Regions from separate parts of the Homo sapiens genome. Here region 1 is linked to region 2. The links come from fine-mapping of genetic effects on gene expression. A gene starts in region 2. The other region holds a variant in brackets. All regions are shown on one strand. Distances are between the middles of the regions. Region 1 has its middle 63 kb from the start of LINC02156. Region 2 holds the start of RPAP3 (RNA polymerase II associated protein 3).

Region 1 (8,773 bases), 230 kb after region 2:
TCTCATTCTACTGATAACCAGACATTGGATTATATCGGGCTTCACTGTTTTTTCCCAATTTCGTTATTCAAGTTCTCTACATTGTGTTTAATGCATTCTTTAAGATATTTGTTATCTAGCATTCTATTTTAGAGGACAGAATGACAGAAAAGTTTTTGATGCCTAATTTTCTCCTTAGCCTTAATTCACTGGAATAATTCTCTTTCTCTCTCATGTTGTAATTCAAATGGATTTATCTTGAGAAGTCATCTTGAGGAAAAAGCATATATTTTTTGTATCCCAAGAGACTTCACAGAATAAAAAATAATTGCTTTTTTGTTTTTTTCTGTGCTTGTATTCGTACCCCAAATATTTCACGGTTATCTTCAGAAACATTGTGTACTTTAAGAGCTCAGCAAATGTTTTCCTAAAAAAAAGAGAGAGTGCACAAGCCATCAGCCCATTTGTTTCCCCTCTAGACCTAGGTGAAATCCATCTACTCTGATGTTCATAAAATGGGGACCCTCCTGTCCAGAACATCATTTCTCTATGAATATTTTTCTCATCCCTTTGATTTGTTTCCCTACTTTTGTCATTACAGAAAGCTATCTTGAATCATAAAGAAAGCCCTATTTTTTATATATCTGAAAAAGACAGGGATATAATTGAACTCTACCCACAGGTACAAAATAAAATAAGCCCATAATATAGCCATAACACTGGAAAAGAATAGAAAATCGTTCTGTTCTCATTATTTTAGGAAATAAGGCTTTAAGCAGCAAACAGCATATGAATCTGAACTGACAGGTAATATGAAAATGAGCAGAAGGAGGCAAATAAGGTGTGAATCATCCCTAGGGTCATTTATCTCCAGGGAACAGGCTGCGCATATTTCTGAGCTTCTGCTCCTTGATGGGGAGTACCTGAGGGGTAGGGGACAGGGCACCCACCAGCAAGCTTTACAAGCATTAAGAAGTGCCCACTGACCCTCTGGGTTGGTGGGCCTGCTGTCCTCCTTCTTTCCACGCCAGAGAATTTCCCTGGGCCCTGATACTTTGAACCCTAACAAATGGTGCTATGGTTATTCATCCTAATCCATTTTAAACTCACAGGTTTCACAGCCACCTCAGCATCTCTTACTGTCTATTGAACTTATATGTCCAGTCACAGAGATGGCAGGATGTGGTAGTAAAAATGCCTTTTCTCCCTCTCAGGGCAACCCAGGGTCTCAAATCTGGCACATACAAGTATCAAAGTGAAAAATGGAAGCAAGGAGAGGCATATAGGCAAAACAACAACAACAAAACACACACACACACAAAGAGGTGACAATAGCAGGAATGAAACCACCTTTGAAAAATTATGACGGTGAGACAAATCTGACGTAACTGACTCCACCTTGCTTCTAACCTCACAAGCTAATGGTCTTTGCTCATTCCTGGGCACAGGCTAAGTTAACTATGGAAGGAATTTAGTTTATAGTTTAACTTCAAAAACAAAGATATTAGTCCCTTCCCAAAACTAACCCTCTCTTTTCTTGGGTATAAAAACCACCTTTGTAAAACTAATAAACTGTCCACAAGATTAGAATTATGGTTCAAGAGTCATGTAGCCAGAGGTCAAAAGATTTGTAACCTCCCCAATTTCTCTTTTAGATAACATTGCAATTGTGAAACCTAAGATTGATGTTTGAGGTATTTTTCAGACCTTGCATTCTGATGCTATCCCAGCACCATTTATTGAATAGGGACTCCTTTCCCCATTGCTTATTTTTTCCAACTTTGTCAAAGATTGGATGGCTGTAGGTGTTTAGGTTTATTTCTGAGTTCTCTATTCTGTTCCATTGGTCTATGTGTCTATTTTTGTACCCATACCATGCTTTTTTGGTTACTGTCTTCTTATAGTGTAGTTTGAAATTGAGTAATGTGATGCCTCCAGCTTTGATCTTTTTGTTTAGGATTGCTTTGGCTATTAGAGCTCTTTTTTGGTCTCATGTGAATTTTAGAACACTTTGAGTTCTGTGAAATATGAGATTGATAGTTTGATAGGAATAGCATTGAATCTGTAGACTTCTTTGGGCAGTGTGGCTATTTTATAATATTGATTTTTTTTCCTATCCTTGAGTGTGAGATGTTTTTCCATTTTTTTGTGTCATCTCTGATTTCTTTCAGCAGTTTTGTGGCTCTTCCTTAGAGAACTTTCACCTACTTGGTTAGGTGTATTCATAGGGTTTTCTTTCTTTCTTTCTTTCTTTTTTTTTTTTTTTTTGCTATTGTAAATAGGATTGTGTTCTTGATTTGGATCTCAGTTTGAACACTATTGATATATAGAAATAGTACTAATTTTGTACATAAATTTTGTATCCTGAAACTTTACTAAAGTGGTTTATCAAGACTAGGAGCCTTTTGATGGAGTCTTTAGGGTTTTCTAAGTATAAAGCCGTATCATCAGCAAAGAGAGAGAATTTGAATTTTTCTTTTCCTATTTGGATGACCTTTTTTTTTATACTTTAAGTTTTAGGGTACATGTGCACATTGTGCAGGTTAGTTACATATGTATACGTGTGCCATGCTGGTGCGCTGCACCCACTAACTCGTCATCTAGCATTAGGTATATCTTCCAATGCTATCCCTGCCCCCCTCCCCCCACCCACAACAGTCCCCAGAGTGTGATGTTCCCCTTCCTGTGTCCATGTGATCTCATTGTTCAATTCCCACCTATGAGTGAGAATATGCGGTGTTTGGTTTTTTGTTCGACTTTTATTTCTTTCTCTTGCTAATTGCTCTGGCTAAGACTTCCATTACTATATTGAATAGTAATGGTGAGAATGAGCATACTTGTCTTATTCCAGTTCTCAAGGGGAATGATTCTAGTATTTGCCCATTTAGTATGATGTTGACTGTGGGTTTGTGATAGATGGCTCTTATTATTTTGAGGTATGTTCCTTTGATGCTTACTTTCTGGAGGGTTTTTATCATGAAGCGATGTTCGATTTTATCACAAGCTTTCTCTGAGTCTATTGAGATAATCAGATGGTTTTTGTTTTAATTATGTTTATGTGGTGAATCACATTTATTTATTTGTGTGTTCTGAACCAACCTTGCATCACAGGAATAAAGTCTACTTGATCATGGTGAATAAACTCTTTGATGTGCTGCTGGATTTGGTTTGCTGATATTTTGTTGAGGATTTTTTTTCTTTTTGCCTATGTTCATCATGAATATTGGCCTGCAGTTTTCTTATTTTGTTGTTGTCTCTTTGCCAGGTTTTGGTATCAGAGAGATGCTGGCTTCAAAGAATGAATTAGGAAGGAGTCTCTTCTCGATTTTTTGGAATAGTTTCAGTAGAAGTAGTACCAGCTCTTCTCTGTACATCTGGTAGGATTCAGCTGTGAATCCATCTGGTCCAGGGTTTCTCTTGGTTGGAAGGATTTTTATGAATGATTCCATTTCAAAACTCAATGTTGGTCTGTTCAAGGATTCAATTTCTTCTTGGTTCAGTCTTGGGAGGGTGTATGTGTCCAGAAATTTATCCACTTAGTCTAGATTTTCTAGTTTGTGTGCATGGAAGTGTTCATGATAATCTCTGGGACTCTTGTATTTCTGTGGTATCAGTTGTAATGTCACCTTTGTCATTTCTGATTGTGTTTATTTGTATCTTCTCTCTTTTTTCTTTGTTAATCTACTTAGCAGTCTATCAATATTATTTCTCCTTTCAAAAAGCCAACTTTTTGTTTGTTGATTCTGTGTATGGATTTTTTGTCTCAACTTCATTCAGTTCTGCTCTGATTTTAGGTATTTCTTTTCCTCTGCTAGCTTTGGGGTTAGCTTACTCTTATTTTTCTAGTTCCTCTAGGTGTAATGTTAGATCATTAATTTGAGATCTCTCTAACTTCTTGATGTAGGTATTTAGAGCTACTAAGTTTCCTCTTGACACTGCTTTTGCTGCATCCTAGAAATTTTGATATGTTGTGTCTCTGTTTCCATTTATTTCAAACTTTTTTGATTTCTGCCTTAATTTCATTGTTTACCAGAAGTCATTCAGGAGAAAGTTGCTTAATTTTTATGTAATTGTGTGGCTTTGAGAGATCTTCTTGGTATTGATTTTTATTTTTATTCCACTGTGGTCTGAGTGTATAGTTCATATAGTTTTGAATTTTTGAATTTATTTATTGCTTTATGGCGAGCATGTGGTCAATCTTAGAGTATGCTCCATGTACAGATGAGCAGAATGTGTATTCTGTGACTGATGGGTGGATTAGTCTGTAAATGTCTATTAGGTCCAATTGGTCAAGTGTCAAATTTAAGATCAGAATTTCTTTGTTAGTTTTCTGCCTTGATGACCTGTCAAATGCTGTCAGTGGAGGTGTTGAAGTCCTCCACTATTATTGTGTGACTGTCTTTTTGTATGTCTAGAAGTACTTGTTTTATGAATCTGTGTGCTCCAATGTTGGGAGGGTATATATCTAGGACAGTTAAGTCTTCTTGTGGTACTGAATTATTTATCATTGTGTAATGCCCTTCTTTGTCCTTTTTTACTGCTGTAAGTGTAAAGTCTATTTTATCTGATATAAGAATAGTGACTCCTGTTCTTTTTTGTTTTCCATTTGAGTGATAGATTTTTCTTCTCCCCTTTACTTTGAGACTAGGGGTGTCATTACATGTCAGATGGGTCTCTTGAAGATAGCAGATGAATGGCTCTTCCTTTTTTTTTATCCAACTTGCCACTCTGTGCCTTTTAAGTGGGGTGTTTAGACCATATACATTCAAAGTTAATATTAGTATGTGAGATTTTGATCCTATCATGGAGTC[A/T]TTAGCTGGTTGCTTTGTAGTTTGTATTGTATAATTGCTTTATAGCATCTCTGGACTATGTACTTAAATGTGTTTTTGTGGTAGTAGGTATTGTTCTTTCTTTTCCATGTTTAGACCTCTCTTGAGGATCTCTTGTTAGGCTGGTCTAGTGGTAGTGAATTACCTTAGCAATTGCATGTCTGGAAAAGGTTTTATTTCTCCTTCACTTATGAAGCTTAGTTTGGTGGAATATAAAATTCTTGTTTGGAATTTCTTTTATTTAAGAATGTTGAAAATAGGCCCTCAAACTGTTGTAGCTTGAAAGATTTCTGCTTAGAAGTTTTCTGTTAGCCTTATTGGGTTCCCTTTGTGTGTGACCTGATCTTTTCTGTTGCCTTTACAATTTTTTCTTTAGCATTGACCTTGGACAGTCTGGCGACTATATTCCTTGGTGATGTTCGTTTTGTATAGTATCTTGCAGGTGTTCTCTGGATGTCTTGTACAGGATGTCTACCTCTCTGGCAAAACTGGAAATATTTTATTGGATTATTACTTCGAATATATTTTCCAGGTTGTTTACTTTTTCTCCTCTCATAGAAATGCCATTAATTCATAGGTTTGGTTGCTTTACATAATCCATTTTCTTGAAGATCTTATTCATTTTTAAAATTCTTTTTTCTTTATTTTTGTCTGACTGGGTTAGTTTAAAAGATCAGTCTTCTAGCTCTAAATCCTTTTTTCTGTTTGGGCTAGTCTATTGATAAAGGTTTCAATTGTACTTTGAAATTCCTTAAGTGAGTTTTTCAATTCCAGAAGCTTGGATTGATTTATTTTTAAGATGTTTATGTCTGCCTTCATTTCCTGGATTGCTTTAGAAGTTTCTTTGTGTTGATTTTCAACCTTGTCCTGGATCTCACTGGGCTTCCTAGTAATCCATGCTTTGAATTCTTCATCCTTCCTTTCTGAGTTTTCATTTTGATTACAGACTGTTGCTGGATAGCTAGTGTGATCCTTTGATGATGTCACAGCACTCAGATTTTTCATGGTGCTAGAATTCATGCACTGGTTCCTTCTCATCTGAGGCCACTGACACTTCTAAATTTTGTCATTATTTTCATGCAGATAGGATTTGTTTTTCCTTTCTCTCTTTTCCTGTGTTATTATTTTCTTCCCCTTTGCCCATGTCCCTAGGGGATATGACTTTAGAGAATGTTGGGTAAAACCTTTTGGCTTCATTTCAATATCTCTATGCACTTCTGTCAGCCAGTTTTATATTGGGCAGTTCAACCTACAGACAAGTTCATGGTTCTAATGAGTAAGAGCCAGATGTGGCCAACATAGATGGGTATATGTTTAATCCTTGTTTACTGGAGAAGGTCTCTGTTTCTGGAAGCAAATGGCAGATCTGTGGAGTTCACAGTGGCCTGAGCACCCTGCTCAGCACCATAGCTGAGGGATAAAGATGGTTGGGGCTAGACCAGGCCTGCTTACAGGTCACCCAATGGCAGGCACAAGAACCAGCACCAAGGGGGGTCCAGTGCACAGCCACCAAGTGCCCACAGATGTGTCTAGGTGTGCCTTGGGGCTGAATAGGAACTCTTTGGCTTCAAGTTCTCTGCACAGGGAATGCAGCCACCTAAATTCCAAATCCAGGAGAATGACTGCTCTAGATGCCTGGAGCTCTGCCTGGGTGTGGAGTGTAGAGGGCCCCATTCCACCACAATCTCTGCATAGGGAGGGTGGAGTGTCTCAGGCTGCTTACCCAGGTGATGTGCTCCAAATACTTAGAGATCAACCTGGGCATGGGACAGAGATGGCACCACTGCACCACAATCTATGCATAGGATGACTGGGCAACTCAGGCTGCTGGTGTAGGTGGGTGGGAGATCCAAATGCCTGGAGATCTGCTGGAAGTAAAGTGGAGAGGGCCCTGCTGTACCACATTCTATGTACAGGAAGGGTAGGGTGGCTCTAGCTGCAGATCCCATCAAGGGGGTGCTCTAACTGCCTGGAGATCTGCCCGGATATGGAACAGAAGAGGCCCCATGGCACCCCAATCTATGCACAGGAGGGGTGGAGCAGCTCAGGATGCTAATCCAGAAGAGTGGGTGCTCTGAATGCTTGGAGATCAGCCTGGGTGTGGAGTAGAAAGGGCTCTACTACATCACAATCTCAGGGGAGCAGGCTGGGGCACCCAGCAATGGCACATGTAGACCAGTTCCAGGTCCCCAAACTGGCCCTGGCTGTCCATCTTCTCACCAAGGAGAAACTGGCTGTCAGCACTCTCCTCCTGCACCAGACCTGTGATCGGGTAGAGCACAATTCCAGTTCCTACAGCTTGGGTGCTTTCCATACTTGTTCTGGCTGTGGAGGCTCCTACTCAGCTCCAGAGCAGGTGCTCCAATCTCTAGTCCAAGACTAAAATGCTGTATGGCCATGGTGCCAGGCTACTAAATAATGACTGATGTTGTATGCACCCAGATTAAAAATGGTGCCACAGTCTCCAAATCAGGCCTGGGAAAATGCCTACAACTTTGTCTGGTGTCCTTCCCTTTCAGTGTCTCCAAGCTTCTCTCCAAGTTGGCGCCAAGGCTTTGGAGGAACAAAGTGCTCTCCCTTAGCCTGGTTGCATGGATCCCCAGTGGAAAGGTGAGTCACAGAGGGAGGCTTTCTACCTCCTCCTGTCCTGTTCTAGGGCTTCACTCACTTTTGTCAGACAAATGCCATCATCGGGGCAGCTTGCCCACCTTCTCTTCCCTGGCACCTGGGATGAGATGTCCTTCACTATTCTGGTGGATTCCTGTTTTCCTTCTTGAATTAAAGCCCACAGAGTTGATCTTTATGACTGATTTTGCTATTTCCAAGTGGCTAAGGCATGCTGAAAACCTCTAATCAATTATCTTGGGAAAAAAAAAAAAACCTCTGTTTTATAACACTACACAGAGCTCTGCAACTGACTCAAGCATGCAGTTTGTCCCACAAATAGGGTTGTCAGACTGACATCACATAGTCATTTGAACTAAAGGTGCCTAAACATATTCCCAGGAGTATTTGCCATAAAGCAGAGCCTCATAATATAATCAACAATAAAGTACAATCTCTGTTAGCATTATGGCCTTTCCATCTTATTTTCCTATAGTGTCTACATTTCTGAAGAATTGATTTAGAAAAAACAATCAACACTTGTATAGCACTTTATAATAGGCAGAGCGCTTCAAATATGCGAGTTTATTGATTCACTTAGTAAACTGAACCACAAGTGGATTCTATAGTGTTTAGGTTTGTGTTTATGGGTACTGTGTGGATGTATAAACCTCTTAAACTCCCTTAATCTCATGCTTTCAGACTCTACTATGATTCTTCTGGAACAGAAGAGACCCTTTTCTCTCATATTCTGATATTCACAAGAACTTCATTACTGTAAAGAAACATTATTCCCTGTTATGACTAAACTCTTACACATGGAGACAATGGGTAATAATTTTAAATAGTGGGAAGTGGAAAATTATGGTACTTGATGTGAAAGTAGCCTAATGATTACACCTTTTATCTTTAGCTCCAAGGTTTATGAGTTACAGTTGAAATGAAAGTGAAGCTATCCTTTATTATTATCTGAAGTAGGATATTAAAATATAAAGCTGTCCTCATAAGGTGTTTTGTTTTAGCTTTTTACTTGGGAGGTAGTATAGCACCTTCTTTAAGAATGTAAGCTCTTGGTTAAGAATCTAGGCTTCCTGGGTTTGAATCACAGTTTCACAACTTTATTAGTTAAATATTCTCTTGGGCAAGTTGTTCAAGCACTTGAAATCCAATTTCTTCATCTCTAACATGAGCATCAGAGCAGTGCTCTTCATAGAATCACAGGGAGAATTGAACAAGATCATCTATGAGGGGCTCTTGGCTTAGTGCCTAGACTCTGTGAGCTCTGTTTATGTGTTCTGTTGTTAAAGCATTTTACAGTCGAAAAGAAAGAATCACATCAGCCGAATGGGAAGCTGAAATTC
Region 2 (8,003 bases):
CCCTTAGCTGTCCGGACATATACCTGGGACAAGTCCACCTATGGGAATGGCAAGAAGTACATCGCCACAGCCTACATAGTGTCTTCCACCTAATAGAACTTCGAGCCAGAAAGGGGCATGAGGGCTCTTGCGAGACTGAAGTGCTATCTTCTCTGGACTAGAGAGAAGAGGGAGAGGACTGGAAGGGATCACCAAATCTCAAAGCAATGAGAAGCATTCCTAAATCCCAAAGTGCCCACATGGGAAAGAGATAAAATGTACAAATTAGAAAAATGTGGATAAACAGTCAAACCTTTATCCTCTAGAATTTTGGCAATGTTGACTAAGAAACAGAGTCCAAGCAGAGAAGGTAGGAACCCTCCATAGCTCTCTGCCCTGATGTGTGGGGGAACTAGGAAGAAGTCCTTTGACCTCACCAGGCCTCATGCTTCCCTTTAATGTAAAGGGAAGGGGTTTGCCCACTTTCCTCTTTTTGGGGTTGGTGAGAGGGCAAACCCTGATATTTTTACTGTGAAGGTGTTTTCAGTTGTTCTTAGGAAGAACAGCTGATAGAAATTCAAGATTACTATAATGGCTGTTATTATACACAGCTCTGTAAACTACCACTCAGCCCTGTGTTGGGGTCCTCAAAGAAGTAAGGCCACAGTAATCAAGCAAGGGCCTTTGGTTTTTTCCAGAGTTAGATCCTCTCAGAACAGAGTCTGGGAGAACTCCAATGCTGAATGGAGAAGGGTAATAGGTTGGTGCAGTGAATGGGCTGGGGGTGGGGTGGCCTTCTCCAGGCCTGAGTGTTTTTGTGTCCAGCTCAGTATCTGCAACAAGAAGTTTCCCACTTGTGGATGTTTAGTGCAGCCACAGACTTGTATTTTGATCCCCAATTTTTTTTTGAAAGAGTTCTCCTCATAGGAGGATGATTCAGCATCAGAAGAAGAAGGAACCCATAGCTTGGTGTCATTAACATAATTATTTTAAGCCTTATCCAGCAGCCATAATTTGAATAACTCTACGAGACCAGAGAGACTGTAGTTCCCTATTTTAACCTCAATTATGCATTTGTCCCCCAACCCCACTGAGAACTAAATGCTGTACCACAGAGCCGGGTGTGAACTATGGTTTAGAAGGTTCAAGTTTCCAATTAAAGTCATTGAAGAAAACTTGAAATGAGTGTCTTCTTTGTATATGGCCTCCCTCCAATGTCTGTCTCCCTGCCTTTTCCCTAGAGCAGGGCTGGCAGTGATACTTTTGCTCTAGAGTCTTTTCAGAATGGCTTGAAGAATGTGGTATCTGGGTGAAGTCTCTGTTGACTCACTAAGTCTCTCTAGCCAAGAGGGGAAGAGAATTCTGTAATATGAAGAGTGGAAGGATCATTGCATACAGATAGTGAGGCGGCCGGTGGGGGGGTGGTAAATGGAGATTGGTGGTCCCCATCCCCAATAACCAGTCCCCTTTATCAAATACACAGGAGTATAAGGACATTTCTGGATGTAGCTTCTGTGGTTGCAGAGGTTGACCACACTGGGGGAAGAGGAGATGCTAAAGAGATACAGAAAAAGACTTCTTATCTGTAAACAGATTACTCAAGCCACAATGCTAGAAAACGGTCAGGTATGAAGAGATACCTCGGGCAAGTTTATAGCCTGCAGATAGATGAAACAGGGCCTTGTCCTGCCCTTTCCCAGAGATGTTCACAGTCAATAGGCAAGACAGTGAGTCAGTAGAGCACAGGGGTAACAGGTACAGGCTCTGAAGTCATGTTGCCCAGGTACCTAGCCAGGCTCTGTTGCTTACTGGCCATATGAGCAAATTTCTTAATTATTCAGATTGTTTCCTCACCAGTCAAATGGGGATAATATTACCATTGTTGTGAGATAAGGAATGTGAAATAACATGCTAGTCTTTCTTATAGTAATTATTGTCTCACTTATTATACAGATTTAATTTTATACTGGGAGAGGCAATTTACTATCCCTGCTATCAGCCTTAACCTTCACCTACTGGTGCCCAGTACTTGTGCTCTTCATAGGCCTCTTCAGAGGTCTTCCAGGTAGTCCAGTAGGAGACAGAAAGACAGAAATGCAGGAGAGAGTACTGTATTCCAGGGTCTGGGCCTTAGCTTTGCAGGAGAGAAAGGTAAGAACTAACATTTGTTAAGCTGTTACCATGTCCCAAGCTGTGCTAAGTAGTCCTTTTATATTCATTTTCTCACTCTGGTGGGTATTTTTATCTTCACCACTTTAATTTTACCTAGACAACTGAGGATCAGATTAAGCCACATTCTTAGTCAGTAGCAGAATCAGGATTGCAAAATTCAACCCTTTTCCTCATGTTGTAGTGAGCCTGGATTTCTAGTAGTATCTACTCACTTATTCATTCATTATTTTTTAAAGAATATTTATTAAGACCCCTGACAGAGGCTGCTGGTTACCCCTCAGTATCTGCTCTCCTCTTCTTCCTTATTCACTGAAGTCTCAGTTTTTAGGTACACAAATGACTGTCAAGAGTACAGACTCTTGACCTCCCTTGCAACCAGAAGTAGGCGTGTGTCTATGTCCTCACCAATGGCATGCAAAAGGAAGTATTCTTAATGGGCAGGGGGTACCGTTATTCCCACTCTTGCCCTTTTCTGCCGACTGGATTTCAGACAAGATCGTGGGAGCTTGAGCAGCCAGCTTGAACCATGAATGAAAGCCATATGCTGAAGATCACAGAGCAGCCAGGAAGGAGCCTGGGTCTCACACCGAAACTGTCACACTAATCCTGGATTGCTTATATTCAGTTTTACATGAAAGAAAAATAATCTTTCATGTTTAAGCCACTCTTATTTTGGGCTTTCTGTCACATGCAACCAAACTTAACATAGTATCTCCATAACAGGAAGTCCCAAGGTTCATTTTCTTCCTAAAGTTACTTAGCTAATACTTCCTTTCTTAAGATTTACATTAACTGTCAGACTCTTTAACTATTTGAAAGAGCCCAATAATTGTTTTGGATATTAAAATTAATAGCATTTACAATCATTAATTGCAGCATTTTATTGTTGCAATAATAAACACTCCTGTTTATTTCCACTGACCATTACAACTGCAACACATAAAACACATAAAGAGGTTTGTCTCTTTGAAAATAACTCTTCAGGTATTAATGATAAGTTCAATTGAGATGACTGGAGTAAATGAATAAAAGAGACTTAAAAGAAAGGCATTATTTACACATTTTGTTGAAATCCATTTAAAGATAACTGCCAATAGAAGTGGGGAGGTCTGCAAGGAATCTAGGAAAGAACTTAAGGTGGCCTAGGTCTGAGCTCACAGGAGAGAAGGCTGCCATTGCAGGCACAGGTTTTGTGGGACAGCAGGAGCCTCAGAATTAGGTGATGATGACCATCAAAACCATTTGATTAACTTTTCTCACTTTGACTCTATATTCACTAAGCTACTTCTGATTATTGTATGGTTTGAGAGAGAAAAAGAGAGAGAAAAGCAGGGTCACCTAAGGGTCTATGAGGTTTTACTAGAGCAGCCAGCTAGCCCCCTTATCTCTCTTCTCAATCAACTCTGTCAGAATTAATAAAACAAATGTGGTTGCTTTTGTTAAAAACACCAGTAAATCAATATTTGCTTTTAAATACTTAATAAAAAAATTATTAAAAGTCAGTTCTCTATCTCCCTAATACAACCAAAGAATCATTTCATTAGTAAATATTTTGACGTACACTTAATGATTTGACTACTATGATTTTAAAATATAAAGATACCAATAATTAAGCAATGGGAAGGATGTGCTAATGATATGACCTTGTAAGACAGCACTCCAGCCTAGTTCTTCATTGATCAGCGCCTGGGTTAGTGGCTTCCAGCTTCAAATGCACAGCCGTATCCTATGCTTTAAAAAATTCTGATTGGCTTCACTCAAGACTAGTTACATCAGAATCTCTGGGATAGGACACAGAAATCAGTATACACACACACACACACACACACACACACACACACACACACACAGACACAAACACACACACACACACACGTGTATATGTATATACTCCCTAAGTGATTCCAAAGCTCAGTCAAGACTGAGAACCACCGATCTGGATTTTGAGGATATTTGAGGTTACAGTCCTGTTTTAAATGGAAAGTTTCATTTGTTTGTGTTTGCTTCTGTGGACTTCTGCAATTATTTTTGTTTTGCTTTCGTTTAAGAGTTGTCATTGCAACGAAGACTCCCTCACACGGGAAGCAGAAGCAAAAAGTGTTAAAAGTTTCGTTCTTTTTTCTCTGTAAGCCAGAGCATATCTAAAGACAGATTGTAACACTGGCACATGTCAAAGAAAGACTCAGAGATAGATTCACTTAGAAAAGGGGTTTACTTGCAAAAGATGCGAGGAGTTAGACGGAAGGACTAGTTTGCCAACCAGTACTTAAAGGGAAAAAAAAATCCCCTAAAATTACCAGGATTACCGGTTGACAGTAGTCTGTTCATGGTGGAAAAACAGTAACTTTCTCACATGGTTATTATACTCACAAAGGTCAGACAAATTAATGTCACAAAGGTCAGAGATTAGCAAGGTAAATATTAGGGATTAAACTGTTTAAGGGAGTCCAGGGAAATATTCAAGGTTTTATTGTTTTGGAGATCAGAAAATCAGGATGATCCTGCAGTTTTTGGGTTATCTCCTTTTAAGCTTAGTCATATTGGAAGCAGGCAGAAGGCTCAGATATTGCTTTTACATACCCTCAAGCCACCAAGCTGGTTCCATCCTGAGAAGGAAGTCACGAAGCTGACTTCTGCGCGCGCTCAAGCCCAGGCTAAAGGGGGCGGGGCGAGGCCGCGGGGGCTTGTGGGGAAGCGCAGGAGGCGGGGCTTTGCGTGAGTCACTGCCGGGCTCGGCGTGAGTCGCTGCGGGGCTGACGGGGTGGCAGTGCGGCGGGTTACGGCCTGGTCAGGTGAGCGGGCGTTGCGGTTCTCGCTGCCCGGAGCAGCGTAGGAGATCCTTGGGGTGGCCGGTGGGAGGAGGGGTAGCGGTTATGGGTACCGGTGAGGCGGGGCGGGCCGGGGCTGGCGGTGGAGGCGCGCGTTGAGGCGGCGCGTCGGTGTCCAGGGCAGCGGCGTCTCGGGTCGCGCGTTCCCGGAGGGGCTCGCCCCCGCAACCCGGGCCTGCGCGCTCTGCTTTGCAGGCGGACCCTCCACCCTGCTGCGATTTTGCAGTGCTCGGGAAGGCAGAGCCGCCCTCCCGCAAAGACCGAGGTGGGGCCCGCCCCCTTGCGGCGTGGGTGTGCGGTGTTCGCCGGGACAGCGGGTGTGAAAGTGATACCCCCAGCGCTGGAAGTTTTTGATTGCTGGCTCGCACCCCCGCCCCATCGCAGGGTCCCTGGGAGAGTTTTTGGGCCTGCTCGAGCAGCAGCGGTGATGGGTGAAATGGAAAAGCATCTAACCCCCGTCAGCATCTCACTGACTTGTTGCGCTTTTATTCATTTATTTGAGTTCCCAACAAAGCGTTGTACTAGTTTTGTTTTTGAATGAGTTGTGCATATATGGTCAAACATGGACACTGCCTGAAAGAAGCTTAAACCTAATTTAGTTGTTGAGGCTACGAGTCAGAAGACCTATCTGCATCTGCAACTGTCCCTTCTTAGTGAGGTATTTTTCACTGTCCTAAACAAATGTTTTTCTAATTCCGTCTCTCTCCCTCCCACCTTACTTCTCTTCCCTCCGCCTAAAGCTTTGACTCTTCTCCTACCTTTTTGGAGATTTTGCCCCATCACTCATCCTTTTTCCTGTATCTTTTACTTTGTTGCTTTTTCCCCAGACTATGCTCAAGAACAAGTCTTATATTATCAAAGGCAAATGTACTGTAATCTCCATATAATCTCATTTACGTAACTCATTTCATTCCCCCCCCTCCTTTTTTTTTGGTCCCAGGCTGGAGTGTAGTGGGCCCGTCACCGCCCACTGTGGCCTCGATCTCCCGATCCTCCCACCTCAGCCTCCTGAGTAGCTGGAACTATAGGCACCCTCCACCACGCCTGGCTAATTTTTGTGTTTTTAGTAGAGATGGGGATCTCGAAGTGTTGCCCAGGCTGATCTAGGAACTCCTGAGCCCAAGCTATTCCCCCTGCCCCCCAACCTCTGCCTCCCAAAGTGCCGGGATTACAGGCATGAGCCACCTGCGGTTGGCCTTCCACCCTTTAAAAAAAATCTTATTGAAACTCTAAATAGAGGTCAGGCGCGGTGGCTCATGCCTATAATCCCAGCACTTTGGGAGGCCGAGGTGGGCGGATCACTTGAGGTCAGGAGTTCGAGACCAGCCTGGCCAACGTGGTGAAACCCCGTCTCTACTAAAAAAAAAAAAAATACAAAAATTAGCCGGGCGTGGTGGCCTGCACCTGTAATCCCAGCTGCTCGGGAGGCTGAGGCAGGAGAATCACTTGAACCTAGGAGGTGGAGGTTGCAGTGAGCTGAGTTTGCGCCACTGCACTCCAGCCTGGGCGACAGAGCAAGACTCTGTCTCAAGAAAAAAAACAAAAACTCTGAATAGTCTTTTTATGACTAAATATAATGCACTTTCTTTCCCTCTGTGGCATTTGGCACTGCTAACCTCTCACTTTCTTCAACTCATTTTTTGTCATCTGTAACAGTACACTCTAGGTTTTTCTCCCAACTGTCTAGGTGCTACTGCCTACTTTTTTCTTCCTTGGCATCTCTTTCTCCGTTTAGTGTTCTCCAGGTTCACCCCATTCCCCAGTTGTCACAATGGTTAAACATGGCCACATCCTTGATTCTAGCTTCTACCTTTCTGCTAGTGACACCGGAATTTATCTCTATTCCTACATAGCTACCTATGGGGTATCTCTTCGCCCCATTAGCACTCAAATTCAGCATATCCCAAACAAATAATCTGACTTTCCGTTTGCCCTCCAACTTTGATGCCTCTTTTCCTTTTAACATTGTATTTCTTGACTCAAAATGGCATCAGTAATCTTACCGGGGTCCCAAGCCAGAAATCTAGGCCACTGTTTGAGTCTTTCTCTGTTCTCCAACACCTCAGTCTAGTCAGTCATCAAGTTCTTTTTATTTTACTACCTTGATATTTTCACATAACTTTCAGAATATAGGTTAGACCTCATGGCCTGCCATTTCAAGTCTGTCCCATGTCCACCTCTTTAATTTTCTTTTCCTTCATTCTCCCTCATAATTCCTCACTCTGCCTGCCCACTCCTCCCTGTTAGTCACTTGGCGGGCCCCTTTGAAATCCAGCTAAAGTTCCAACACCTCTGGGGACTCCTTCCGTGACACCACCACCCTACTATCTGATCCATGCCTATTTTTTGCAGTCAGTTCCATAGCATCTGTATGTACCTCTGACGCAGGGTTCTCAACCAGGGGTTATTTTACCTCTCAGGGAACATTTGGCAGTGTCTGGGATTCTTCGTTGTCACAATCCATGAGAGGAAGGGATAATCCTGGCACCTAGTTGGTAGAGGACAGAAATGTTGCCAACCCTCCTACAATGCACAGGACAGCACTCTTAAAATAAATTTTTTGGCCCAAAATGTCAGTAGTCCCAAGGTTGAGAAACCCTGCTTAACATATTTTGTTACTAGTGCTTTATATATTTTTTTCTTCTCCACTGCACAAGGGACCTTGTCTTGTTTTTGCATCCCTAAATCTTGATTCAGGGCCTTTCACATAGTAGAAGTTAAATGTTGGAAGAAAAAGAAATAAAGGAGGTAATCGCTCAACTCCAGAGATGAGCAGCCTGTCTGCTACCACAGGCTACCTGATAATTTCAGTGATTTTTCTCCCCATTACCTTTCTTTAATGTTGCCTTTCAAGGATGCTTCAACTTGTCTATTTTTCATTTGTTTATTCAGCAACTGATTTATTTTTAAAATATTATATTGATTTTTCTTTATTCAGCATCAGTTGGCTGTCTTCTGTCCATGTATCTTGGCCACTTATGAAGTGGTAAAAGATAATTAGCTAGCTTTCAGAAAAATAAACCA

What was found. PIP is the estimated chance that this variant, and not a neighbour inherited with it, causes the effect. A credible set is the group of variants that fine-mapping cannot tell apart.
Region 1: its variant is the best candidate, but not a certain one, in a credible set for the expression of RPAP3 in whole blood (INTERVAL, PIP 0.70).

The regions. Positions count from the first base shown.
Region 1 is chr12:47,473,191-47,481,963 of GRCh38, reverse strand. No RefSeq gene overlaps it. Among named protein-coding and RNA genes, the nearest start is that of LINC02156, 63 kb to the right of the region's middle. The variant A/T (reference allele first, on the strand shown) is at 4,791.
Region 2 is chr12:47,702,892-47,710,894 of GRCh38, reverse strand. It overlaps RPAP3 (RNA polymerase II associated protein 3), which reads left to right and starts at 4,865. Exons shown (of 17, transcript NM_024604.3): 1 at 4,865-4,943. ENDOU (endonuclease, poly(U) specific) reads left to right here. Exons shown (of 10, transcript NM_001172439.2): 10 at 1-1,161. The coding sequence ends at 93. RPAP3-DT (RPAP3 divergent transcript) reads right to left here and starts at 4,807. Exons shown (of 4, transcript NR_183480.1): 1 at 4,732-4,807. RefSeq lists enhancers at 4,554-4,703, 4,635-4,929, 4,650-5,149, 5,150-5,651 and silencers at 4,844-4,923, 4,994-5,283, 5,314-5,403.